Homo sapiens: one gene and its partners. The protein of the gene in region 1 interacts with the protein of each later gene in a pairwise test. Each region holds a gene or a part of one and is shown in the gene's direction. Other genes may lie near its edges.

What was found.
Region 2: the proteins of GSN (region 1) and FAM83A interact in binary tests that used the Homo sapiens proteins (3 or more experiments, as listed by UniProt).
Region 3: the proteins of GSN (region 1) and HBEGF interact in binary tests that used the Homo sapiens proteins (3 or more experiments, as listed by UniProt).
Region 4: the proteins of GSN (region 1) and AKIP1 interact in binary tests that used the Homo sapiens proteins (3 or more experiments, as listed by UniProt).
Region 5: the proteins of GSN (region 1) and LONRF2 interact in binary tests that used the Homo sapiens proteins (3 or more experiments, as listed by UniProt).
Region 6: the proteins of GSN (region 1) and NDEL1 interact in binary tests that used the Homo sapiens proteins (3 or more experiments, as listed by UniProt).
Region 7: the proteins of GSN (region 1) and ITPRID2 interact in binary tests that used the Homo sapiens proteins (3 or more experiments, as listed by UniProt).

What each region holds. Positions count from the first base shown.
Region 1 is NC_000009.12:121,274,662-121,278,161, forward strand, and holds part of GSN (gelsolin), read left to right. Parts: intron 1-3,500. UniProt on the Homo sapiens protein: Calcium-regulated, actin-modulating protein that binds to the plus (or barbed) ends of actin monomers or filaments, preventing monomer exchange (end-blocking or capping).
Region 2 is NC_000008.11:123,189,165-123,192,664, forward strand, and holds part of FAM83A (protein FAM83A), read left to right. Parts: intron 1-2,638; coding exon 2,639-2,806; intron 2,807-3,500. UniProt on the Homo sapiens protein: Involved in mitochondrial maintenance during adipogenesis. May be acting by playing a role in the maintenance of normal mitochondrial function.
Region 3 is NC_000005.10:140,343,804-140,347,798, reverse strand, and holds the start of HBEGF (proheparin-binding EGF-like growth factor precursor), read left to right. Parts: upstream 1-1,195; 5' UTR 1,196-1,470; coding exon 1,471-1,516; intron 1,517-1,714; coding exon 1,715-1,888; intron 1,889-3,995. UniProt on the Homo sapiens protein: Growth factor that mediates its effects via EGFR, ERBB2 and ERBB4. Required for normal cardiac valve formation and normal heart function. Promotes smooth muscle cell proliferation. May be involved in macrophage-mediated cellular proliferation.
Region 4 is NC_000011.10:8,914,189-8,917,383, forward strand, and holds part of AKIP1 (A-kinase-interacting protein 1), read left to right. Parts: intron 1-637; coding exon 638-742; intron 743-3,098; coding exon 3,099-3,179; intron 3,180-3,195. UniProt on the Homo sapiens protein: Enhances NF-kappa-B transcriptional activity by regulating the nuclear localization of the NF-kappa-B subunit RELA and promoting the phosphorylation of RELA by PRKACA.
Region 5 is NC_000002.12:100,316,002-100,319,501, reverse strand, and holds part of LONRF2 (LON peptidase N-terminal domain and RING finger protein 2), read left to right. Parts: intron 1-3,500.
Region 6 is NC_000017.11:8,452,884-8,456,383, forward strand, and holds part of NDEL1 (nuclear distribution protein nudE-like 1), read left to right. Parts: intron 1-1,912; coding exon 1,913-2,004; intron 2,005-3,500. UniProt on the Homo sapiens protein: Required for organization of the cellular microtubule array and microtubule anchoring at the centrosome. May regulate microtubule organization at least in part by targeting the microtubule severing protein KATNA1 to the centrosome.
Region 7 is NC_000002.12:181,919,230-181,922,729, forward strand, and holds part of ITPRID2 (protein ITPRID2), read left to right. Parts: intron 1-66; coding exon 67-217; intron 218-1,367; coding exon 1,368-1,433; intron 1,434-2,718; coding exon 2,719-3,183; intron 3,184-3,500.

The sequences.
Region 1 (3,500 bases):
GATAGCTGCAGAGCAGGGTAGGGGTCAGCGGATGGAAAATTACTAAGAGGAAGCTCAGGAATAAGGGATATTCTTGCTAAACCGACCTAACAAAATTATTGATGAAGACAAACCAGGGTGATTCAAACATCAGTGGGGGCATGGTGGAGGATGAGGAGCCTGATCAGATATCAAGGATGAGGGGTTCTGGCTAAACAGACTTAGCAGGATTCTTTTGCTAAAACTGGATTTTACAAGGAAGTGCACAGGTAGGCCTAGGAGAAGGTTCAGAAGCCTGGCTAAAGTTTGGCCAAGCAAATAATCTGTGTCATGCTAAATTTTGCCAAATTTCTGCTCATAAAGGTTACAGTAGTCCTTATTCCTACCAGCCATCCGTGAGAATGGCAGCATTCTTCAGGAGCATCTGAAGCTGGTTATAAAAAGCTCAGCTGTCCTTTTATAGAATAGAGTACAGCGACCATTTTCCTGAAACGTTACATTTCATTCATTCATTTGGCAAATACACTTGCACAATTCAGCAGCAATAAAGCATAACAAGTTAAGATCCCAGGCCGAAGAAGTGGAGAGAACTTGGTTCTCCTTCTGGTTTATGTTTTGCACTTGCCCTAAGACCTTGAGGACATCACCTCACTGAGTTTCATTTTTCTCAGCTATACAGTTAGGGCTTCAATACCCACTTCACAGAATTCTACAAAGTACCTAACACAATGCTTGGCCAGTGCAATCATGTGGATGCTGGGAATTTGTATTATCTCATCTGACTCCAAAGAGCCCTGGAAAGGAAGCAGGTAGGGACAGATCCTTCCCATTTCATGGACTCAGAGAAGAAACGGCCATGTTTCTTGGTGTCCTGAGCTTCACTTCAGGAACTGGTAGTCCAAAGGAACTGTATCGTTCAGAACGGAGGTAAAACAGGCTTTTGTGGGCTAGCCTGTATCCATCCCCCTCCCACCTCCCCTCCCACCACAGTACCTGTTTCTCTTGGAAGGCAAGTTCCCAGTTCCAGTGGCAGCCAGAATTCTTTCTATGCTCTTTTAGAAGGTGGGAGATGCCTGCCTAGACTGTTCAGTGGTCTTAAAAAAGAGACCATAAAATTCATGGTTGCATAAAATATAGTTTTCATAGATTTAAATTGCATTTTAAATGCACTAAGGCTTCATCTTTGAGCTTTTCAGAAATGTGGGATTTCAGACTCCATCTTTAGGGTTGCCTTATTTAGCAAATAAAAAACAGTGTGCCAGTTAAGCATGAGTATGGCCCTTGGAATGTTTGGGGCATAATTATACCAAGACATCTTATTGTCTTTCTGACATTTAGATTTAACTGGGCATCTCATGTTTTATCTGGCAACCCTACCCACCTTGGGTCTACTGAATCCAAATCTGGATTTTCACAAGATCCCCATGGAATTCGTGTGCGAATTCAAGTGTGAGAAGCATTGCATTGGGAGCCTTGCCATCAAAGCCCTGAATGAATCCTTTTTGTAACAAATCTGTTGGTAAAATATAATGCACTATTTATAAAGAGCCTGATTATTCCCAAATCAACCATTTGCACACATCTGTGTGTTCATGTGTTAGGTTTTCTTAATACAGGCTACCCTTGCACTGTTGTCAGTTGAAGGGAAGAATTCCTTGCTTTGGTAAGAAGCCCTAGCCCCTCTCAAGGACCTATTTTCCTCATCTGTAAAATGGGCTACATCCTTAGCATCCGTGCCAGCCTGTGGTGACCAGCTGAGGTGGCCCCAAGGGGATGCATGGCTAGAGCCCACGCCAGGTCCCTCCTCAGCCTCCTCACAAAGGACCGAATGACTTGGCTCTGTGATCCCATCCCCCAGAGACTTTGGTGTGACTGTGGTGACCCTTGGCATAGCGCACCCCCCCGACTGCCTCCTCATCTCAAAACTTTCCAAACCATGACTTTTATAGCAGGGCTTTAGGAATCGCCTGGCTCTACCCTCTCACTTCATGGCTACAGATACTTGTGCCCTGAGAGAGCAAGTGAATTTCCCAAAGCCAACAGCAAGCCCTCTGATTGCTGCTCTACCAAACCAAAATGATTTCAGTTCTCATGAAACCTAAGGCCTGACTAAGGAAGATTAAGAAACCTGGTGGTGGTCGGGTCCTGTAGTGGGGTGGGAGGAGGGGGGAGGGATAGTATTAGGAGATATACCTAATGTAAATGACGAGTTAATGAGTGCAGCACACCAACATGGCACATGTATACATATGTAACAAACCTGCAGGTTGTGCACATGTACCCTAGAACTTAAAGTATAATAAAAAAAAAAGAAAGAAAGAAACCTGGTGGTGGTCATACGCCTAGTTTGTCTTGGTTGTGTGGTCTTGGGTAAGTCATTTCTCTCTCTAACCTATTCCCTGCCCCCACCCCTCCATAATATGGGGAATACACATTTTCCTGTTCCCCTAGGTCTCCTTTCTACCTGGTTAAGGTTTTATTTTAAGATCCAGTGGTAGATCTTGGTCTGTCAATTGGTCCTAGAGTGGAATGCTTTATGAAATCACTGGTACATGTGTTAGGTCAGAGACTTAATACCATGACATCATGAAAGATGTCTTTAGACCCTTTCTCTCCTCATTGCTAACAAAGATTTTATGAACTGTGTTTCAGCTGGACAAAAAAGATGTTCTAGAGCATTCTAAGATCGCCTGGGGCTTTTGTTAAAATGCAGATTCTGGTTCCACAAGTCTGGGGTGGGGCCTGAGGCTCTGCATTTCTAGTGATGCTGATGTAGCTGGTCCAGGGATCACACTTTCAGTTGCAAGATTTGAAAACAATCTGTTATTAGTGTAGAATCAATACTTATGAGATAAGGGACTTAAGAGGCAAGTCCCTTGTTCAGGGCTAAAGACCCAGTGACAGTAATAGGGTCTAGCCTGGAGCCCAGATCTTTTAATGTCTTGTCTTTGACATCTGACTTATCTGTCTATTTTATCTGCAGCTATGAGTTTCTAGAATCTGAACAGCCCTTAAAATACTTTGCTGCTTAATTATGTAGCAAAGTAGGTTCTTCTTTAGGAAAGAGAGTGACTCAGTAGAAAGCCATTGGAAGGGGGAGAAATACAGCTAGCATTTGATCAACCCTTTCACCAGAAGTTTTTATACTTGAGATTATAAACATTCTTTCTGTATTTATGGATGCAAACTACAGTCCTGGGGAGGCCCCAGTCTGTTTTTGTATGCCTCTGAGCTAAGAATGGTTTTATAGTTTTAAAGTGTTGTTAAAAAACAACAATAACAAACAAACAAGGAAGAATATGCAACAGAGAGGGTGTGTAGCCTATGGAGCCTAAAATATTTACGGTCTGGCCCTTTTACAGAAAAAGTTTGCTGACCCATGATCTAGAGTACCCAAAGATTTGCATGTTCTTTTTTTTTTTTTTCTAGTCAGCAAGAGGCCCAGCCTTATAGCTTTGAAATATAGTGAGGTCAAGACGTAGGGGAGGCAGCCTGCGTTGGTGGGAACTGCCCAGACATCT
Region 2 (3,500 bases), on another chromosome or scaffold:
AATTAATTGTGTGATTACAGGGCCATGGTTCTAATGATCACAGCCTCATTATTAGAACATCTTTTCCGATTTCCTGCCCAGGGTGAGCAATCTCTGAGGAGTTCCCTCCCCTGTCCAGCTATCCATCCACATCACAGAAAGTTGATTCCAAGTGGATACCAGCCATCAGTTTGGCCTGCCAGTAAGACACCTCTCTTTCCTTGGCTACTTCCCAGATGGCGGTGGTTTTAAAAAATATATTGCAATGATTAGAAAGATAGTGGAAACTTATTATTACAGGTAATCTTGAAGAAAGGGAATGGCCGTATTCCCTGTGAAAGGAAAGTATCTTTGGCCCCCAAAATCACTAAGGAAAACTCAAGCTGGAAACTGCTTAGGGCAAACCTGCCTCCCATTCTATTCAAAGTCACCGCTCTGCTCACTGAGATAGATGCATATCTGATGCCTCCTTTGGAAAGACTAATCAGAAACTCAAAAGAATGCAACAGTTTTTGTCTTACTTATCTGTGGCCTGGATGCTCCCTCCTGGCTTTGAGTCTTCCTGCCTTTGCTTCCAGTTGTCCCACCTTTCCAGATTGAACCAAAGTACTTCTTACATCTATTAATTGATGTCTCATGTCTCCCTAAAATGTATAAAATCAAGCTGTGCCCCGACCACCTTGGGCACATGTCGTCAGGACTTCCTCGGGCATGTCCTCAACCTTGGCAAAATAAACTTTCTAAATTAACTGAGCCCTGTTTTATTTTCTGGGTTCACATCCCCCATCCTAACATGACTGTTAGTTTTTGCTTTGGGCTTACCTACAATCATGTACGGAATAATGACATTTTGGTTACTAACAGACCACATCTATGACAGTGCTCCCATAAGATTATAATGGAGCAGGTGGGGTGGCTCACTCCTGTAATCCCAGCAATTTGGGAGGCTGAGGCTTAAGGATTGCTTAAGCCCAACAGTTCGAGACCAGCCTGGGCAACATAGTGAAACCCCATGTCTACAGAAAAAAAATGAAAGAGAGAGAGGAAGAAAAGAAAGAAAAGAAAGAAAGAAAGAAGAAAGAAAGAAAGAAAATTAACATTTTAAATTTTTATGTATTTTCTTATTTTTTTATTTTGAGACAGAGTCTCTTTCTGTCACCCAGGCTGGAGTGCAGTGGTGCGATCTCGGCTCACTGCAACCTCTGCCTCCTGGGTTCAAGCGATTCTCTTGCCTCAGCCTCCCCAGTAGCTGGGACTATAGGCGTGCACTACCAGTCCAGCTAATTTTTTTTTTTTTTTTTAGTAGAGACGAGCTTTCACCATGTTGATCAGGCTGGTCTCGAGCTCCAGATCTCAAATGATCCGCCCGCCTCGGCCTCCCAAAGTGTTGGTATTACAGGCGTGAGCCACCGCGCCCGGCAGTAATTAACATTTTTAATGACTGCCTAATAAGCTGCTTGTCAGTATATCACAATTAAGGTATTAGAAAGGACTCATGACTGGGTGACAGAGAGTAAACCCAAACAAGCTTAAGAAGAAGAGAAACATTCATTAACATCCACAGTGGAAAAGTCAAGGGTGGCACTGGTCTCAGGCATGGCTGGAACCAGGTGTCCAAATGACAATGCTGGGACTCTGTCTCTACCTCCTGGCTGCTTTCTCCAGGGATGGCTTCATTGTCAGGCAGGCTCTCCCCAAGAGGTAGCAAAAATGGTTGCCAGCAGCCATTGCTTATAAAATACCAGCTAAGCAACCTCGTAGAAAGAACACCTCCTTTTCCCAGGAGTCCCAGCTAAAGTCCTGGGCTGACTCTTATTAGAATAACTTAGATCATGTGACCACCTCTGGACCAATGTCTGTGGCCAACAGGGGATGCCATGCTCCCATTGGTCTAGCCTTGGTCATGTGGTCTCCCCATATCCAGTCAAAGAATGGCAATAGACCCTTCCAAACCACATTGATTGTGGAGGGGAGGCAATTACTTAAAGTCAGATTGGGATGCTGTTGACAGAAGAAGGGAGAATGAATGCTTGGCAGGAGGAACACAGATGTCTCTCCTGCTCACTGAAGGTCTAGAACTCCCCTCCCCAGTTTCTACTGTGACACATGATGCAGTAGCTGTGGGTAGAGCGTGACTCCCTTCTCCATCCCACGGGGAGCAGCTTGCTCTAGGCGCTTATATACGGTGCCTCCACATGGGATTTTGTTTGAGGATAGGATTCCACGGCTTAACAGCATTTGAAAATCAGTGGCCATAGTGTGCCCTCTAGCTCCAAGTGGCTGAGAATCCATAACCTTAACTTTATTCCTCTTCTGGAACCGGTTGAGATGCTTCTTCTTGTTCTTCTCTGCTCTCCTTCTCTTTCTAGACTTTTCCCTTCCTCCTCTGCACTCCCCACTCCCACAATGGGCATAGGGGCCAACAGATAGGTGGTGGGACTGGAGAGATGGTATCAGGACAGGCGCAGGGGCCTCCACTCCAGCTCTTCCTTTTCCTTCCATTAATCCTGCCCAGTCAGACCCACTCTACCCCATCCTCTCCCCTCTGGCCCAATGGGAACAGCTCTCCCAGGCCCACTGGGACTCAGGCAGTTTGGGTGAAACCAGTTAGCACCTGCCCCTGACCTTTCTGGTAACTGAGCACTCTGCCCTGGCCCAGGTCCTGGTCATCCTGATGGATGTGTTCACGGATGTGGAGATCTTCTGTGACATTCTAGAGGCAGCCAACAAGCGTGGGGTGTTCGTTTGTGTGCTCCTGGACCAGGGAGGTGTGAAGCTCTTCCAGGAGATGTGTGACAAAGTCCAGATCTCTGACAGTCACCTCAAGGTAGGGGCCCCAATGAGAGTCCTAAGGGTACTCATATTAGCCCAGATAGGATAGTCTATGCAATAGTAACAAATGTCCCTCATCTTGTGTTAATAGCTTAACACAATAAAGGTTCATTTCTTGCTCAAACAAACTCCTATGTAGGTCAGATGGCCCTCCTCCATATTGTAGCTACATCATGAGAAATACACGGCCTCTAAGATAACCATGACAGGGAAAGAGAAGGCTGGGAGACTCTGCAGGATGTTTCCAGGATCTGACCTGGAGGAGATTTCCATCGCTTTCTCTTATAACTCATTGACCTTACCCAGATGCACGGATGCTGGGAAATGTAAAGGGTCATGGGTATCTGGTGAGCAGCATCTCTGCCATGTACTCCAGTTCTCCTCTCAGCTGGGGAAGCCCAGGGATTGCATCTTACAGGGCAGGCAACCTCCAGGGTCTGTGGGTGCATGTTCAGAACTCCCTGGTCCCAACAAGACATTGATCCTCTTGGACTTAACTGAACCCCGTACTTCCCTCTCCTGGCAAAGAGAAAAGAAACCCAGCGATAAGGGTTTGATTCATCACATAAATTTGAGGACAACTAATTCAAATGTGAACACCACCCATAGCTTTCATGAGTAGGCCTGGGTGAACAGCTGATTGGTGGCCCTCAGAGTTCTTTTGATCAGTCTCCTCTAGTTCAGGCAAG
Region 3 (3,995 bases), on another chromosome or scaffold:
TCTTGTCCAAGGTCACACAGTAAGTAGCAAAGGCAGGATTCAAACTCAGGTCTGTAGTGATTCCAGTGCACTATGGAAACCTAGGCCTAGGTTACTGGAGCAAGTTAAGAGGGCAGGGCCAGACTGACCCCTGCAAAGGTGGGGATAGGGAGGGACAGTGGGATAGACTGTGTATAAATAGCAGGCCTGTTTTTATCCCTACACACAGGCAGAATCCGGCAAGTGCTCTATCTGGCACAATTTCAGGGCTCTGAAAGCCAACCCAGCCCTGTGTCAAACAACTCTCTCCCCAGCACGTCCCTGGAAACTGAAATACCTACTGAGACACTCATTTCTTTGGGTCAGGACAGTGACTCCAGAAGACCCCTGCAAAAGCACATGGGTTGGAAGAGAAACACCTAGTGTCTGTGAAACAGCAATCTAGGTTAGCCAGCTGGGTCCTATGGGAGGGTGGCTCATTTTTTATGTTGAGGAAAAAGGTGGCAGTCAAAGGCAAGGAAAAGAATAAGGCTTGTTTCACAACCTGTGTCTCTCCAATCTCAGAAGCCTGGGAATTACAACCCATAGTTCAAAAATCCTAATGTCCCCTGAGGGAAGATGGGAGGAAGCCACTCCAGAGACTAAGAGAGTACTAACTTCCTTTGCTTTTGCTGGATTGATACTAAGTGCCTGCAACTTCAACTCTGGTTATCTCGGGTTTATGAGAACGGCTGGCATTCACGTGTCTAATTTTTAAATGATAGATGAATTAATTATTATTTGATACTTGCCGTGTTGGTAGGCCAAAAGGTGGGCTTCTGAAACTTAGAGGGTGACAGGGATGGAGACCCCTGGTATGGGGCTTAGATGAAGCAAGAGGCCAGGCCCGGAACAGAACTCAGCTCAGCAGTCAGTCACAAGGCTGCAGAGTGACAGGCGTTTGGGGAAAGGTAGGAACCGCTCTCCGCCACCTGCCGGTCAGTAGCCCTACCCACAATCAGGCCGCGGCTGCCTCGGCCTGGTCCCAAAAATTGTGAACGCCGCCCTCTCCTCCCGCCCAGTCCTCCGCCGCGCCCGCGGGGTCGGGGGCTGCGCTGCCGGCGCCGCGAGCCGGGCGAGCTTCCCAGCACGGGAGGAGGGAGGGGGCGGCGCCGGGCGGGGCGGAGCTTCCGCGCCTCCTGGAGCCTTATTCCCGGCCGCGAGCCGGGCAGCGCTCATTCGGCCGAAGGAGCTACGCGGGCCACGCTGCTGGCTGGCCTGACCTAGGCGCGCGGGGTCGGGCGGCCGCGCGGGCGGGCTGAGTGAGCAAGACAAGACACTCAAGAAGAGCGAGCTGCGCCTGGGTCCCGGCCAGGCTTGCACGCAGAGGCGGGCGGCAGACGGTGCCCGGCGGAATCTCCTGAGCTCCGCCGCCCAGCTCTGGTGCCAGCGCCCAGTGGCCGCCGCTTCGAAAGTGACTGGTGCCTCGCCGCCTCCTCTCGGTGCGGGACCATGAAGCTGCTGCCGTCGGTGGTGCTGAAGCTCTTTCTGGCTGCAGGTAAGAGGGCTGCCGACGCCCCCGGAGATCGGGGGGATGGGGGCGTTGTGCTGGGGGCATGGGGGAAGGTCGCCGCAGCGCACCCGGCACGGGCCACTTGGTGGGGCCCTTGCGCTCTGGCGGACGGGCGTCGGCATCGGTGCGTGTTGGTCAGGGGTCTGGGCGGGTGTCTGATGCGGCCTGGCCTCTCGCCCGCAGTTCTCTCGGCACTGGTGACTGGCGAGAGCCTGGAGCGGCTTCGGAGAGGGCTAGCTGCTGGAACCAGCAACCCGGACCCTCCCACTGTATCCACGGACCAGCTGCTACCCCTAGGAGGCGGCCGGGACCGGAAAGTCCGTGACTTGCAAGAGGCAGATCTGGACCTTTTGAGAGGTGGGTGTGGAGGCCCCCCATCCTTGGACCTTGGTGGGCTGTTGAAGAATAAGCAGATCCAAGATTCTTGCTGTTTGGGCAATACTGTGGGTTGAGGGTATTCATGGAGAACCTCGGGGAAAAGCTGATCGGCCTGATGGGCACTGGGGGATCCTGGAATATAGGTCCCACTCTCTCTCTCTTGTCATTGCCTCACCTGCTGGGTTGCTGCCCTTCTGGGTACTCCGGGGCAAATTGAATCAGACGTGTTGTCTGGGGTTGTTACGTTCTTCTTAGGTAAGCTGGGTGATAGGAACAAGGAATGGTTGAGATGCTTTCCCTAGAGCTACTATGTAAAAATGGGCGCCAGTTCTAATTCCCATATCAAATGACTATTATATATAAAATAGAGGTAACACATGCGGAGATGCCCAGGCACATCTCTAGAAAGTGTGCAGTGTTGGCCTCCTCCATCCACCTGTCTCCAGATTGGGGAAACAGAGGGGAATGAGGAGCTCTTGGCCGCCCTAGATGAGGCTGTGAATGGTGAGCACTGAGCCCCTAGGGGGCTGTATTAAAATGCTGGATATCTGTGAATGCTACCGGAAACCTGCAGCTTACTGAGCACCTTGCATTCCTGAGGAGACTCCAAATGGGGAGGGCTGTGTAGGATCCTCCAACCAGCCTCTTTGGCTGTGGCCAAGTACAGGTACAGGGCAGAGTCCAGAGCCTGCCAGCTCTCCTGCCTCCAAACCTGAGGAGATTATCCAGAGTAGAGCAAGGACTCAGCACTGTACCCTGGAATGACTATATTTGGTTGGACAGATGCCCACCTGTTCTAGTTCCACCTGCTCCTCAGCTGCCCTTCTCCCTCATTCCCAGGAGCTTTCCTTGGATACTCTCTCTACTTTGTATAAATCAAGCACATACTCCAAAACTGAGCCTGGGCTCCCATACTTCATCCTCTCCCAGTGGCCCTCTGGGGTTGCCCATGACCTGAACAGCCTGGATTCTCCTGGCCCTCTCCTCCTAGGCTGGGCAGGGCTGGGCTGTGACTCACCCCACCCCCACCCCCCACCCACACGGCTGCTCCTCTTACCTCTGCAGACCTGACTCACTGCTCCCTGTCCATGGCAGGAGCCTGGCTGTCACCCTGCACCTTCTCCCTCCCCTTTCTGATTGGCTTGGCCCCCCTGCCTTGCTCTCCCCGAAGCTCTGGTCACTGGGTTCCTCTGACCACCTGTATCACCTTCTGAGCTCTGAGGGGGCCTGGGACTGGATGAGAGGAAATGAAAGACTGTGGGGGCTGCTGGCACCTACTTCTCTTCCCTTCTTTTGGCTTTGCTGGGCAAGGACTATTTTTCAGGTCTGGGGATCCTACCACCTAAAATAAATGACTGCTACCATTTATTAAATTCCTACTGTGTTCTAGGCACTTGATATGTTATCCTGGCTAATGTAACACTTATAGCAACCTTTTGAGATAGTTACTTTGGCTATCCACATTTTACTGAGAACCTGAGGTTCAGAGGAGTTAAGTGACTGCCCACAGTAAATAGCTGAAATTGGAGCACAGGTCTATGGACTTCAGAGCCCATTCATGCCTGGATCAGCATCTCAGGTGCTCTAGACTTGTGAGAGGGAGGAGATGGGAGTGTGTGAGGCAGCTTGGTGTGGTGAGGAAGGACATTGGAGTGAAGTCCAGAGAACACAGTTCTAATCCCAATCCTGCATGACCTTGAGTAAGTCACTCTGCCTGCCATGAGTTTTTTCTTTTTTTCTTTTTTTTTTTTTTAAACATAGTCTCACTCTGTCACCCAGGCTGGAGTGCAATGGCACGATCTCAGCTCACTGCAATCTCTGCCTCCCAGGTTCAAGTGATTCTCCTGCCTCAGCCTCCTGAGTAGCTGCGATAACAGGCACACACCACCACGCCCGGCTAATTTTTGTATTTTTTGTAGAGATGAGATTTTTGCCATGTTGGCAAGGCTGGTCTCGAACTCCCGACCTCAGGTGATCCACCTGCCTCAGCCTCCCAAAGTGTTGGGATTACAGGCGTGAGCCACCGTGCCTGGCCACATGGTATTCTTTGAAGTCCCTCTAGCTTGAGACTCTAAGTCTCTAGTCT
Region 4 (3,195 bases), on another chromosome or scaffold:
GTCATTAGTCATTATCAAGGGCAAGTCTAAGGCTAACTTTGAGGGGGAGGAAGGAAGCAGACAAGAGAAATGTAACTGTTTTCCGATCTTTCGGAAGATTCTTCTTAAATTAGAGACTTCTCCCTCCACTCCCCCACGCGCAGGAAGCACAGAGAAAAGGGCTGCAGAGCAGCTCTTGGGTTTGTTTCATTTCCTGCTGTGTTTCTAAATCTCAGGAAAATGTACCCCTCTCTTCCCGTGTCCTGGTCTGAGACTTAGACAATAAACATGGAACCGTTCATCCACATTTTTTAGGGGAGGAAATGAAAGGATATGTGCATTGGACATGGGGGCAAAGATGTGAAATTTGTTTAACCTGGCAGAGAGCATGGTCCTGCCCACCTTTAGTTAGCCAGCGTTCTTGCCCTATGGAGGCAGCAGGTGGCAGCACGGGGATGCCAAATGCATTTCTTTCTCTGCAGCCACTTTGGGTGGGCTAAGGTTTGTTGCATGACTTCAGAGGCCTGTCAAGAGGGCAGGTAATTCACCTTTGCTCTCTTGCCTCCCTCCTTAACTGCACTTTGCCCAAATATCAGGGTTTTTTGAAAATTTGACAAGACAATTTGGTTAGCTAACATCTTTGACATTACGTCTCTAGAAATATTATTCATCTGTGCCAGAGGAAGGAGGGGCAACCCATGTCTATCGTTATCACAGAGGCGAGTCGAAGCTGCACATGTGCTTGGACATAGGGAATGGTCAGGTAAGTGTACTCAACTGTCCTGCACCATGCCTTCAGTCTACCAAGATATGACACCCTATATTCAAGAGCCCCTGCTAGACTTTGTGTCACTGGATGCCCGTGTGACTTGGCATTACAGTGCTTAACAGAAATGTGTAAATTCATAGCCTTAGAGAACTTACAGCAATGAACATGAAATAGGAGGTTGTCAAAAATATAAGATTGATGCCACTGTAGGATCTTTAGTTGAACCTGCAGTCCTGGGCCATGGGATTCTCCAGCAGGTTTAAAGAAAAGAGCTTCCAAGCCTGGAATGTGGTGTATGCAATGATCGCCCCTGTGACTATCCCCTGCATTCTATCCTGGGCAACATAGACCCTTTCTCTAATTTTTTTTTAAAAGAGCTCTAAATATCCTCTTCTACATCTAGGGATAGGATTTTTTTTTTCTTTTTTTTTTTTTTTTTTTTTTTGAGACAGGGTCTTACTCTGTCACCCAGGCTAGAGTGCAGTGGAGCAATCATGGCTTACTGCAGCCTTGACTTCCTGGGCAGGTGATCCTCCCACCTGAACCTCCCAAGTAGCTGGGACTACAGGCACATGCCACCACACCCAGCTAATTTTTAATGTTTTTAATAGAGATGGGGTTTTGCTATGTTGCCCAGGCTGGGGGAAAAGATTTTTAATAATTACATTTTTTACTATAAGGTGATAACTGTCATGTCTTTGGTAATTTTTTTTTTTTTTTGAGAGGGAGTCTCACTCTGTCACCCAAGGTGGAGTGCAGTGGTGCGATCGCGGCTCACTGCAACTTCTGCCTCCCAGGTTCAGACAATTCTGCCTCAGCCTCCCAAGTAGCTGGGACTACGTGCACACACCACCAGCCCAGCTAATTTTTGTATTTTTCTTTCTTTTTTTTTTTTTTTTTTTGTGGAGTCACAGTCTTGCTCTGTTGCCCGGGCTGGAGTGCAGTGGCACAATCTCAGCTCACTGCAAGCTCTGCCTCCCTGGTTCACGCCATTCTTCTGCCTCAGCCCCGAGTAGCTGGGACTACAGGCGTTGCCACCACGCCTGGCTAATTTTTTGTATTTTTAGTGGAGACGGGGTTTCGCTGTGTTAGCCAGGATGGTCTCGATCTCCCGACCTCGTGATCCGCCTGCCTCGGCCTCCCAAAGTGCTGGGATTACAGGTGTAACCCACCGCGCCTGACCCATTTTTGTATTTTTTAATAGAGACAGAGTTTCACCGTGTTGGCCAGGCAGGTCTTGAACTCCTGACCTCAGGTGATCTGCCTGCCTCAGCCTCCCAAAGTGCTGAGATTACAGGCGTGAGCCACCATGCCTGGCCCCTGTCTTTCATAATTTTTAAAAAGAAAGTACAAGGGAAGTGTGGGGACGGGGGTCTCTTTTAACAAAATACTTTTTGTAAAGGTAATAACAGTTACGGGCCTCTCACTACAAACTTACCTTTTACCACATGTCATTCTGGGGAAGCCAAAGATTCTGCTTATTGAACTGATTCAAAGGAGGAGGTGGTGGTGGTGGTTTCTGAGGAGACTAGGTTTTTGCTTTTGTTTTAACCTACCCTACTTGTACTCAAAGATAGCAAACTGAAGTCCAGAGTCTATTCCAGAGTCTAAGTTGGATTCCTGACTTCTTTGGTCTGTCAGCCATTTTGGGGTGTTAGAGGGAGGAAGTTTAGGAAAAGGATGGGAGAGTGGGCACAGGGACATGAGCAAGGGCTGAGTGCACACTCGAAGCACCTCCCACATGCCTCCCCTGGCCTGGGAGGTGAGTAGTGGTGCCAGAGCTTGAGTCCTGAGCCCCCTTTTCTGGCCTAGCCTGAACTCTTACCTAAACGCACCTGACCCTAAAGGGTGCACTTAGGTACATGTGGGGAAGAGTCGTTCCCATCTCTCCCTTTAAAATGTAAGTTCCCTCTAAGGGAAATTGGCTTTATCAGTCAGCCTGTTCCCTTCTAGGACCACCCCCACTCCTAGAAGAAGCACAGAAGAGAATGTATTGAGAGCCTAAGTGCCACTTTTGCACTTTAAATTTTCCCTGCAATCCAAGAGTGCCATGTTACAGACTGGAAAACCAAGGTTCAAGAGAAGTTAATCTGTCTTAGTAAATAGCAGAGATAGGACTTAAACTCAGGCGTGGCTGATTCCAAAGCCCATGTAAGGATGAAAATTATAGTAAATACCTGACTAAAAATACCTCACAGAATTCACTTAAAAATGCCTTAATGACTTAGATGACAACTTAGAAAAAGCTGACAGAACAATTACTAACTCCTAATAAGGTAGAAGAGAACTTCTCTTTACAATCCAAAAGTGAAAGCTTGGGCACAAATCAGTGTTCTACTTGTCTCTTCAGAGAAAAGACAGAAAAAAGACATCCCTTGGTCCTGGAGGCAGCTATCAAATATCAGAGCATGCTCCAGAGGCATCCCAGCCTGTGAGTACGGAACTGC
Region 5 (3,500 bases), on another chromosome or scaffold:
ATTGTGAGGAAGTATGAGAGGGATCTGTGGGGTAGTGGTGATGTTCTGTTTCATGATTTAGGGGATGGATACACAAGTGTGTTCACTTTGCAATAGTTCATTGCACTATATACTTATATTTTTAGCTTTTCTGTATATATATTAGACCTAATTTAAACGTTTTTAAAATAGGCTATTTCAGTAAATTCATATGAGAACTTATATAGAATGTATTCATTTTTCTATTCAAAGATTAGCTTAAAATTTTATGAAAACATTTAATTTCAAAATAAATTAGCCCTTTTAAAGAGGTTTTGATATAGTTAAAAAAAAAGTTCACAGATGTTTGGAATCAGAAATACCTGTGTTTAGATCCAAGCTCTGACTTTTTTTTTTTTTTTTAAGACGGAGTCTTGCTCTGTCACCAGGCTGAAGTGTAGTGGCGTGGCTCTACAACCTCCGACTCCCTGGTTCAAGCAATTCTCCTGCCTCAGCCTCCCAAGTAGCTGGGATTACAGGCACGCACTACCATGCCCAGCTAATTTTTGTATTTTTAGTAGAGACAGGGTTTCACCATGTTGGCCAGGATGGTCTCAATCTCCTGACCTTGTGATCCGCCCGCCTCAGCCTCCCAAAGTGCTGGGATATCAGGTGTAAGCCACCATGCCTGGCCTTTTCTTTTTTTTTTTTTGAGACAAGGTCTCGCTCTGTCACCCAGGCTGGACTGCAGTGACATGATATCGGTCACTGCAACCTCTGCCTCCTGGGTTCAAGGGTGATTCTCGTGCCTCAGCCTCTCAGGTAACTGGGATTACAGGCATGCACCACCATGCCTCGTATTTTTTTTGTGTGTGTGTTTAGTAGAGACGTGTTTCACTATGTTGTCCGGGCTGATCTCCAACTCCTGTAGTCAAGTGATCTGCCCGCCTCAGCCTCCCAAAGTGCTGGGATTATAGACATGAGCCACCACACCTGATGTCTGATGCTTATTTATTATGTGACCTTAGCGAAGTGTGGTAGTCATTAGTGCTGGTCTATCTCTATACCTTCCCCAGGCAAGGTAGGATTGCACTTCCCGCTCCACTTGTGATTAGGTGGAGCCATGTGACTACTTTTGGCCGATAAGTTATGAGTGGAATTTAAAATAACTAGTACGTATGTTGAAAGAGGTAAATAAATGTATGAAAATATAAAGCATTCAGAAGACAATTGTCCATAAAAAAGAACCAAGTGGGTATCCTGGAAATTCAAAATACAATGTCTGAAGTTGAGAATTAGATTTGTTACAAACCAGATGGCACACATCAGAAATCTGAATGAGAAAACTCAGAAGCAAGTTAACAGAAAATATCCAAACTGAATCACAGAAGAAGACTAAAAGAGAGCATGGGAGTTATGTGAGACACAGACAAAAGTTCCAACATCGATGAAATTGGAATCCTGGAAGAAGAGAGAGGGGAAGGGCAAGAGAAATATTTAAAGAAAAAAGTAATTGAGAATTTTCCAAATCTGATGAGAAACTTTAAATCACTGAATCAAAAAGTTCACTAAGCCCAACAGGGTGGACACAAGTGCACACACAAACATACACACAAAACCCATCCAAGTACATTATAGTCAAGTTCCTGAAAATCAAAGATAAAGAGAATTTAAATGCATTTAGAGAAGACAGGACATATTTCCTTCGAAGGAATCATAGAAGACTGACAGTTGACTTTTAGACAAAATTATTGAAGCTAGAAGCTAATGGAATAATGTCTTTAAAGTGCTGAAAGAAAAAAAAAACCTAGCTGGAATTCTTTACCTGAAAATATTTTTCACAAAATCAAGGTGCTTTAAACCAAAGAAATAACTCAAGCTAAAGGATTTTATTACCATCAGAATTGCATTTCATGATATACTGAGGGAAAGTCTTCAGGCTAAAGGAAACGTATCCATATGGAAGCGTGAAACTAATGCACAGAGTAAAGAGTGCTAGAAGGTGTAACAATATGAGACAATATTGACTATTTCAAATAACAATAATAATGTCTTGTGGTATTTGTAACATACATAAAAGTGAAAGATATGGCAACAGGACAAAGCCAGAATGGGTAAATACAGTTAAATTGTTGTATGGTTTGTACACTGTTTTGGAGGTAGTAACAGTACCAATTTAAAGTAGACTGCTAAATCAGGTTTGCATATTCTGTTGTCTTGGGTAACCACCAATAGGAAGGTAAAATTAAAAAAAAGCTATAGTGGAATAGTAAAGTAATACTGGATTAATCCAAAAGAAAATGGGAGGGAAGAATAGAGAAGGAGAGAATAAGTGGGACAACTAGAAAAGAAATAGAAAAATGGGGATTTAATTTACATTAAATGTGAAGACCTAAATTTCCCATTTAAAAACTAAATGTTGGCAGATTGGATTAAGTGAAGTATAGCTACATGCTGTTTACACACGAGGTAAACTTTAGGTGTAAGAACACAAAAAAAGGTTAAAATTAGTAGGATGGCAACAAAGACTGACAAACAAAAGCCTGATATGGCAAAGTGACTATCAGATAAAGTATTCTTTAAGGCAAGGAATATCAGAAGAAATAAAGACATTTATGATGAATGGGCCAGTTCAACAGAAAAAAAATGTGTAATAATATGCCTAAATTTTTATGCACCTAACAACAAGTGTACACACACACATATGGAGAGAACAAAAGGAGACAAAAGCAAAAGGGGAAATAATTGGAGATGTTGAACAAAACTTTTAGTAACTGATAAAGTAAGGATTGCAAAATAAGTAAGGATATAGATACAACATACTTCAGCACTTAGATTTAATTAATATGTGTCACTACATACAACTACTGCAAAAACATAGCCATTTAGGCTCCCATGACCATAGGCAGAGCGTTGGAGTTGGCCTGTGGTTGTGTTTGCCAACTCCTGGATTAGGCCATGAAAGAAGTCGTAATAAATATTAAAAGATTGAAACCAGACTGTATATGTTCTTTAAACACTGTGGACTTAAACTAAAATTAAATAGCACATAAATAGAATATCTTCAGATATTTTGAAATTAAGCAATATATTTTTATATAATGATGGGTAAAATGAATCACAACATAAAGTAGAAAATTTTCTAATTATCTAATAATTATTAGAATTATTAGAATTTCTAATAATTATTAGAAAATTTTCTTTCTTTTTTTTTTTTTTTTTTTTGAGATGGAGTCTCGCTCTGTTGCCCAGGCTGGAGTGCAGTGGCACGATCTCAGCACGCTGCAAGCTCTGCCTCCCAGGTTCACATCATTCTCCTGCCTCAGCCTCCCCAGTAGCTGGGACTACAGGCACCTGCCACAACGCCTGGCTAATTTTTTGTATTTTTAGTAGAGACAGGGTTTCACTGTGTTAGCCAGGATGCTCTCGATCTCTGACCTCGTGATCTGCCCGCCTCTGCCTCCCAAAGTGCTGGGATTACAGGTGTGAGCCACCGCACCCGGCCAGAAAATTTTCTATTTTGCCTGAATGATAATGAAAAT
Region 6 (3,500 bases), on another chromosome or scaffold:
TGTGTGCCACCACACCCAGCTAATTTTGTATTTTTAGTAGAAATGGGGTTTCACCATGTTGGTCAGGCCAGTCTCAAACTCCTGACCTCAGGTGATCCACCCACCTCAGCCTCCCAAAGTGCTGAGAGTACAGGCATGAGCCACCATGCCCAGCCTACAATGTTTGTTTCTAAAAAGCATTTAAAGCAACTTACCATAAAAGCACAGATTTAATAACACCTAAAATGTAAAACTTGAATAGGGAAAAATGAGATCTAGAAATCCCTGCCAAGAACAGTACAGCGGTTTTTTATATCACGTTGAGCGCCTGTTATGTGTCATGTGTTATTCTGGATGCTGGGAGCACAGTGGTAAGACAAAGCCCCTACCTTCAATGAGATTATATTCTTGAGGAGAAGAAGGATAATAAACAACAAAAAAGCCACACAAGTATTTTCGTTGCTGATTAGCACTCTGTGGAAAACAAACATAAAAAATAATAGCTAACCTTTATTGAGTACTTACTACGTGCATTTTTAAAGTACATTAATTTAAACTTCACAACATCTTTATGATGAGGTAGTTGTTATTTGCCCCCTCTTACATATGGGTCACTTACCCAGTGGCTGAACTGGATTTGAATACAGTAGTTCAGCTCAAGAGCCGTTAATCATGATGTCATATTATCTCTTAAAAATTAAGAAATGTGCACGACTGAAAACCTTACTGAGTGTGGAAGAAGATATGGGTAAATATCATGGTAAATACTATGATTCTGAATGGGAAGACTTAATTTTCTTACAATATCCATTCTCCCCAAGTCAATCTGTAATTTCAACTTCTAATAAAAATCCTAATAGGATTTAAAAAATTGATATGTTGATATTAAAATTATTTTGGAATAGTAAATGTGCAAGAACAGCTGAGAAAAATTTGAAATGGGCTAATAACAAGAGGGATCTTTGCCTTTTGAGATCTCAAAATATATTTTAACATTATAATAAAGTAGCATACTTCTGATAGAATAGGCTAATAGTTCAATGGAACTGAAATATATTCATATATTTAGGGAATTTAGTTTATAGTTATAGTGCTATTTCAGATGAGATGAGTTTTCCCTAAATGATACTAGGACAATTGGCTCTCCATTTGGAGGAAAAAATTTAGATATGTATCTTATAGACAACTATAATTTCTAGGTGAATTAAATGATCTAAATGTAAAAAAATCAGAAAAATACTAGGAGAAAGTATGGGAAACATTATGACATTAAGATGGAAAAGCCAAAGGTTCTCCTACCGAAACACAGTGTTTACAAGATGAATGTCACGCTGAGAGATAGAACATCTATAAGAGAAAGGGTGAACATCCAGAATGTATAGAGTTCTTACAAATTGATTACAGGAAAGACAAACCAGTAGAGAAATGTACAAAGACTAAACAGCTGATTTTCAGAAGAGATTCAAATGACTAGTTACTATGGAAATAGAAACTAAAAAACGTGACTATCAAATTGTCAAAAAAAAAAAAGATAATATCTAATATTATCAAGGGCACCACCGCATAGATTGCTGATATTAGCACAGGCTTTTTAGAGAGCATTTTGGCAGTGTCTGTTAAGGTGAAAAAAATGGGCATATGTTCTGACCCAGCAGTTCTATTTTTAGGAATCTCTTTTCCAGAAATACTTGTCTAGATGTTTAAGAGTATATGTCCTTGTAGCATTACTTATAATGGCGAAAAATTTGATATAATGTAAATATCCACCAATTGGACAGTGGTTTAGCCTATTTATGGTATCTATACTTTATCCATAGTTTGAAGTAGTTTGTTGATATTGTATTGAGTGTTACACTACTTTGTAACATCAACAACAAAACCCAAATGTAAAGGGAACTGCAAGTGTAATCACTCAGCTTTTATTTTTCTCTAGCTATACCAAATGGTTTTGGTACCAGTCCACTAACTCCCTCTGCTAGGATATCAGCACTAAACATCGTGGGGGATCTCTTACGGAAAGTAGGGGTAAGTTTCAATTATTTATCACTAGGTGTTTCCACTGACAAGGTATTGAATTATTTCTTAATTTGAAGTGAGGGAAGAAAGAAAGGATACTTTCCTGTGGTAAAGGCTGTCATGAAGCTCAGAAGCAAAAGCATCCATTGACTAGCCAAGTCCAGATGACACTTCATGATGCCCCTGCAGAAGAGCCTGTACCTTGAACTCTGAGGTTCCCACCGGGGCATTCTTCCTGTTCCCCACTCCTGTTTCAACAGCACGATGCCTCTGTCCTTGTCTAGAATACTTTGTCTAAGGCCTGCTGTGTGTCTTCTACCACCCTCATCCTGGTCTTTGCTGCTGTCTACCGTCTTCCTGGTCATTCCTTTGTTTTGTGTTTGTGGGACTTTAACATTTGGCTCATGGCATTACTCTCTACTTTTAGTCTTGCCCACCTTATTTCCTTGGCCACCTCAACTTCAGTGCCTTCTCCTTGGTGTGAGCCTTGTATTCCAGAACAGTTTCGCTTCTGAAATATTAAACCCAGCCGGACGCGGTGGCTCACGCCTGTAATCCCAGCACTTTGGGAGGCTGAGGCGGGTGGATCACCTGAGGTCAGGAGTTCAAGACCAGCCTGGCCAACATGGTGAAACCCTGTCTCTACTAAAAATACAAAAATTAGTCGGCATGGTGGCAGATGCCTGTAATCCCAGCTACTTGGGAGGCTGAGGCAAGAGAATCACTTGAACCCAGGAGGCGGAGGTTGCAGTGAGCCGAGATCGAGCCACTGCACTCCAGCCTGGGCAACAGACAGCAAGACTCCATCTCAAAAAAAAAAAAAAAAAAAAAATTAAACCCGTTTTTCTGCTTAATCAGTGTGTTACTGTGTACCATACCTACTCTTTAACCTCATCAAGAGTATTACCCCATTTTTTAGTGTGTTTGTTTTTATCAGCCATCTCTTGCTTTCACTTCCTTTCTATTCATCTGTGATCTCACACATCTCTTACTCTGTCACTGTTGACTTCATGGTCTCTCTGGCCACAAAGGAGATCTGCAGTCTGAATTACTGGAAACAGTTGCAGAACCATGTGGATTTATGCCACTATCAAGTCAGCATTTCTAGCATTAGCTCCCATTACTATTTCCCTTAGTGAGTTTTACCTCTCCTTTCAGTAATCAACCATTGCCATTTCCCACTATCTACTACCCCCTTCACTTATTTTCGTGTGTGACACTTTCTAAAAAATGTAGAAATTGCATTATACTTTATCTAAAGCAGATATGGGAGGCCAAGACACAGGTCCTATGTTTGCCTGTTTCAGCTCATCATAGGGGTTATTTTCTAACCATCAGATTAAACCTGCATTTTTAAGGTTAAAATACAAAGTAAAGTGCACAGGTCGTTCCTACAGTACATAGAGTAATCTTTCTTCACTCCCAAGATAACCATTTTAAAATCCTCTATGTTGGAGTATTTGTCTTTATAACTTGAAATCATGTGCTTATTTTTCTGTTTATCT
Region 7 (3,500 bases), on another chromosome or scaffold:
AAGATTTGTGATTAGGAATCTCCAAACTGCATTTTTCCAATTTTGTGCCCTTCACCATACCAATAGGTTTGAAGTTGATCAGCTCCAGGGTTTGAGAAATTCAGTCCGAATGGAACTTCAGGACCTGGAACTGCAGCTGGAGGAGCGCCTGCTGGGCCTGGAGGAGCAGCTTCGTGCTGTGCGCATGCCTTCACCCTTCCGCTCCTCCGCACTCATGGTACGCTACCTGGAGGGTGGTCGGAGTTTTCACCAAAGGTTTATTTATAATGTTCCAATAATTTAGGACGTGTGCCTTCATTTCAAGTCATTTATTTTAATGGTATTAAAAGCATGCATACTGTTTAAGGAGCTTTCCCACAAATCAGTTGAATGTACAATTTGTAATAATTGTCATAAATAGTATATTTAGAAATATGTTGAAAATTTTTAATGATAAATTTTAATAACAGGAAAGAATAAGGGCTTATACGAAAGTTGAGGGTTTTTAAAGGAAAAATGCTAGTGAATTAACATATGACTAATGTAAATTTTAATTGTTGCATGTAACTGCAGAGAACACAGATGCATATTTTGCTGTTTTTTTTTCTTTCATGCCTTTAAATAAAAAAGTGTTCCTTTTAAACTTTTTCTTTATTTTGGATTCTTTTCCATTTGTTTTTAAAGGAATCAAATGATACCTGTATATTTTCATACATATATATACATACACATACATATATGTATTTTCCTAAATATATAGATATATATCCAAGAGAATAAAAAGAAACATGTTTTTGTACCACTTTTCATACTTCTAATGTTTCTTTCCATAACATTTGAACTTCAACAGTTGTATTATTTTTGCAAATATCTTTGAAGTTGTAGAATATGTTGCTTTGAAATGCTGAAATAGTGAATTATTCTTTGTTACCTTAACAATGTATTTGATTTTGTTAAAAAGAAATGGATGAATATACACACATACAATTATGTGTGTATATACTATAAATGAAGTAGAATAAACAATGGTGTATAAACACATATATGTATAGCATAGACTAAGGATGTTCTGTATTGCTAATGAATGTACTTTTCAACATGGTTTTGATTTATCATTCTGAGAAGTGTATGTTGGTGACGGGAGAACTAGAACATCCTTTTTGCATATTGTATCAGTTTTAACTCACAATAATGCATTTTATGGGATCTGTGACACTTGAGAGTAACCTTTGTGACATAAAGGGATGCTTCCAGGCACTAATTAGCCAATTAATTTTATTATAAAAGTCTTGTGATTTGAAAAAATATATATGTACATTATAATTATATATGCATGTATGTATATATACACACACATATACATATATATATTGTTCTTACCTTTTCAGGGAATGTGTGGCAGTAGAAGCGCTGATAACTTGTCATGCCCTTCTCCATTGAATGTAATGGAACCAGTAAGCTTCTTTCCTCTTAAATCACTGGGGAAGGGAATGATACAACATTTCAGACACATAGTTTCCCTAGTTTAGATGAAATATATGTTTATTTTAAATACATAATTTGATAAATTATTGTTGATTGGAAGTGACTTTCACCTTTGAAAGTCCATTGCTGTCTGAAGCCACTAGAAAGCCACCTGAATTGCAATAGTGATTTATCTTTCTGACTAAAGGAGGTAATGCACCATAAAAACATGTACAGTGGCTCATGCCTGTAATCCCAGCACTTTATTTAAATGGTTGAGGTGGAAGGATTGCTTCAAGCCAGGAGTTTGAGACCAGCCTAGTCAACAAAATGAGACCCTTTCTCTACAGAAAATTTAAAAATCAGCCAGGCATGGTGATATGTGCCTGTAGTCCCAGTTACTCAGGAGGCTGAGGCGGGAGGATTGCTTGAGGCCAGGAGCTCAAGGCTACAGTGAGCTATGATTGTGCCACTGCACTCCAGCCTGGGTGACAGAGCAAGACCCTGTCTTTAAAAAATAATAAGCCAGGTGTGGTGGCTCATGCCTGTAATCCCAGCATTTTGGGAGGCTGAGGCAAGTGGATCACCTGAGGTCAGGAGTTGAAGACCAGCCTGACCAACATGGTGAAACCGCATCTCTACTAAAAATACAAAAATTAGCTGGGCATGGTGGCAGGCATCTGTAATCCCAGCTACTTGGGAGGCTGAGGCAGGAGACTTGCTTGAACCCGGGAGGCGGAGGTTGCAGTGAGCCGAGATCAAGCCATTGCACTCCAGCCTGGGTGACAGAGTGAGACTCCATCTCAAAAAAAAAAAGAAAATTGATTTTTAATTTACATTTCAGGAGACATGTGCTTTCACAGTTTGATCCTGGTTCTTTAGGTAGTTAGAGCTGTAACATGACCACGTTTTTAACAGAAATCTGTCTTTATTGTGTTAGACAGATTGGTTCATTTGGGGGCAAAAGCACTATGAGTAACTATTTTTCACTAGTTACTCTTCCTTACAAGTGATTTGGACACTTTGGTGGTAACAAGTAAAATTTCATCCTACTATGTATTCTGTTTACCTGTTTTGTTGCTTCATCTCAATAGGAATTTAAATTTTACTTACCATTTTTGCAAATAAAATTGAGTAGTTATTAAATTAATGGAATAGATTTATGTCTTTACAAATTACATGATTTTAGGCAATAATGACAACCAGGACTTTAACCTTTTTAGCTACCAATCTTAATTCCAAGAGAGAAGAATAACATTTTTTTATGATCTCCAGGTCACTGAACTGATGCAGGAGCAGTCATACCTGAAGTCTGAATTGGGCCTGGGACTTGGAGAAATGGGATTTGAAATTCCTCCTGGAGAAAGCTCAGAATCTGTTTTTTCCCAAGCAACATCAGAATCATCTTCTGTATGTTCTGGTCCCTCTCATGCTAACAGAAGAACTGGAGTACCTTCTACTGCCTCAGTGGGCAAATCCAAAACCCCATTAGTGGCAAGGAAGAAAGTGTTCCGAGCATCGGTGGCTCTAACGCCAACAGCTCCTTCTAGAACAGGCTCTGTGCAGACACCTCCAGATTTGGAAAGTTCTGAGGAAGTTGATGCAGCTGAAGGAGCCCCAGAAGTTGTAGGACCTAAATCTGAAGTGGAAGAAGGGCATGGAAAACTCCCATCAATGCCAGCTGCTGAGGAAATGCATAAAAATGTGGAGCAAGATGAGTTGCAGCAAGTCATACGGGAGGTGGGTAAAATCTGTGTTTCATTCATTTATTTGGAGGTATATGTTAGAGGAGATTTTGTCTGAATATTAATTATTTACAGAATGTTCTTTTGATTCACTGTATTCAATAATTTTCACAGAGCTTTTAAATTAGCTTTCCTGTTGATCAAGTTTGTGTCAATTAAGATATATTTGTAATGGCATTTCTGCAAATTTCATACTCTAATGTGAAATAATTACAATTCTCTGTGTTCAGTATGGTGAAAAAGATATGTGAAGGACTCAAAATAAACATGACGTACTCTTTGGACCTCTTGTTTCCACATCTACAAAATGAG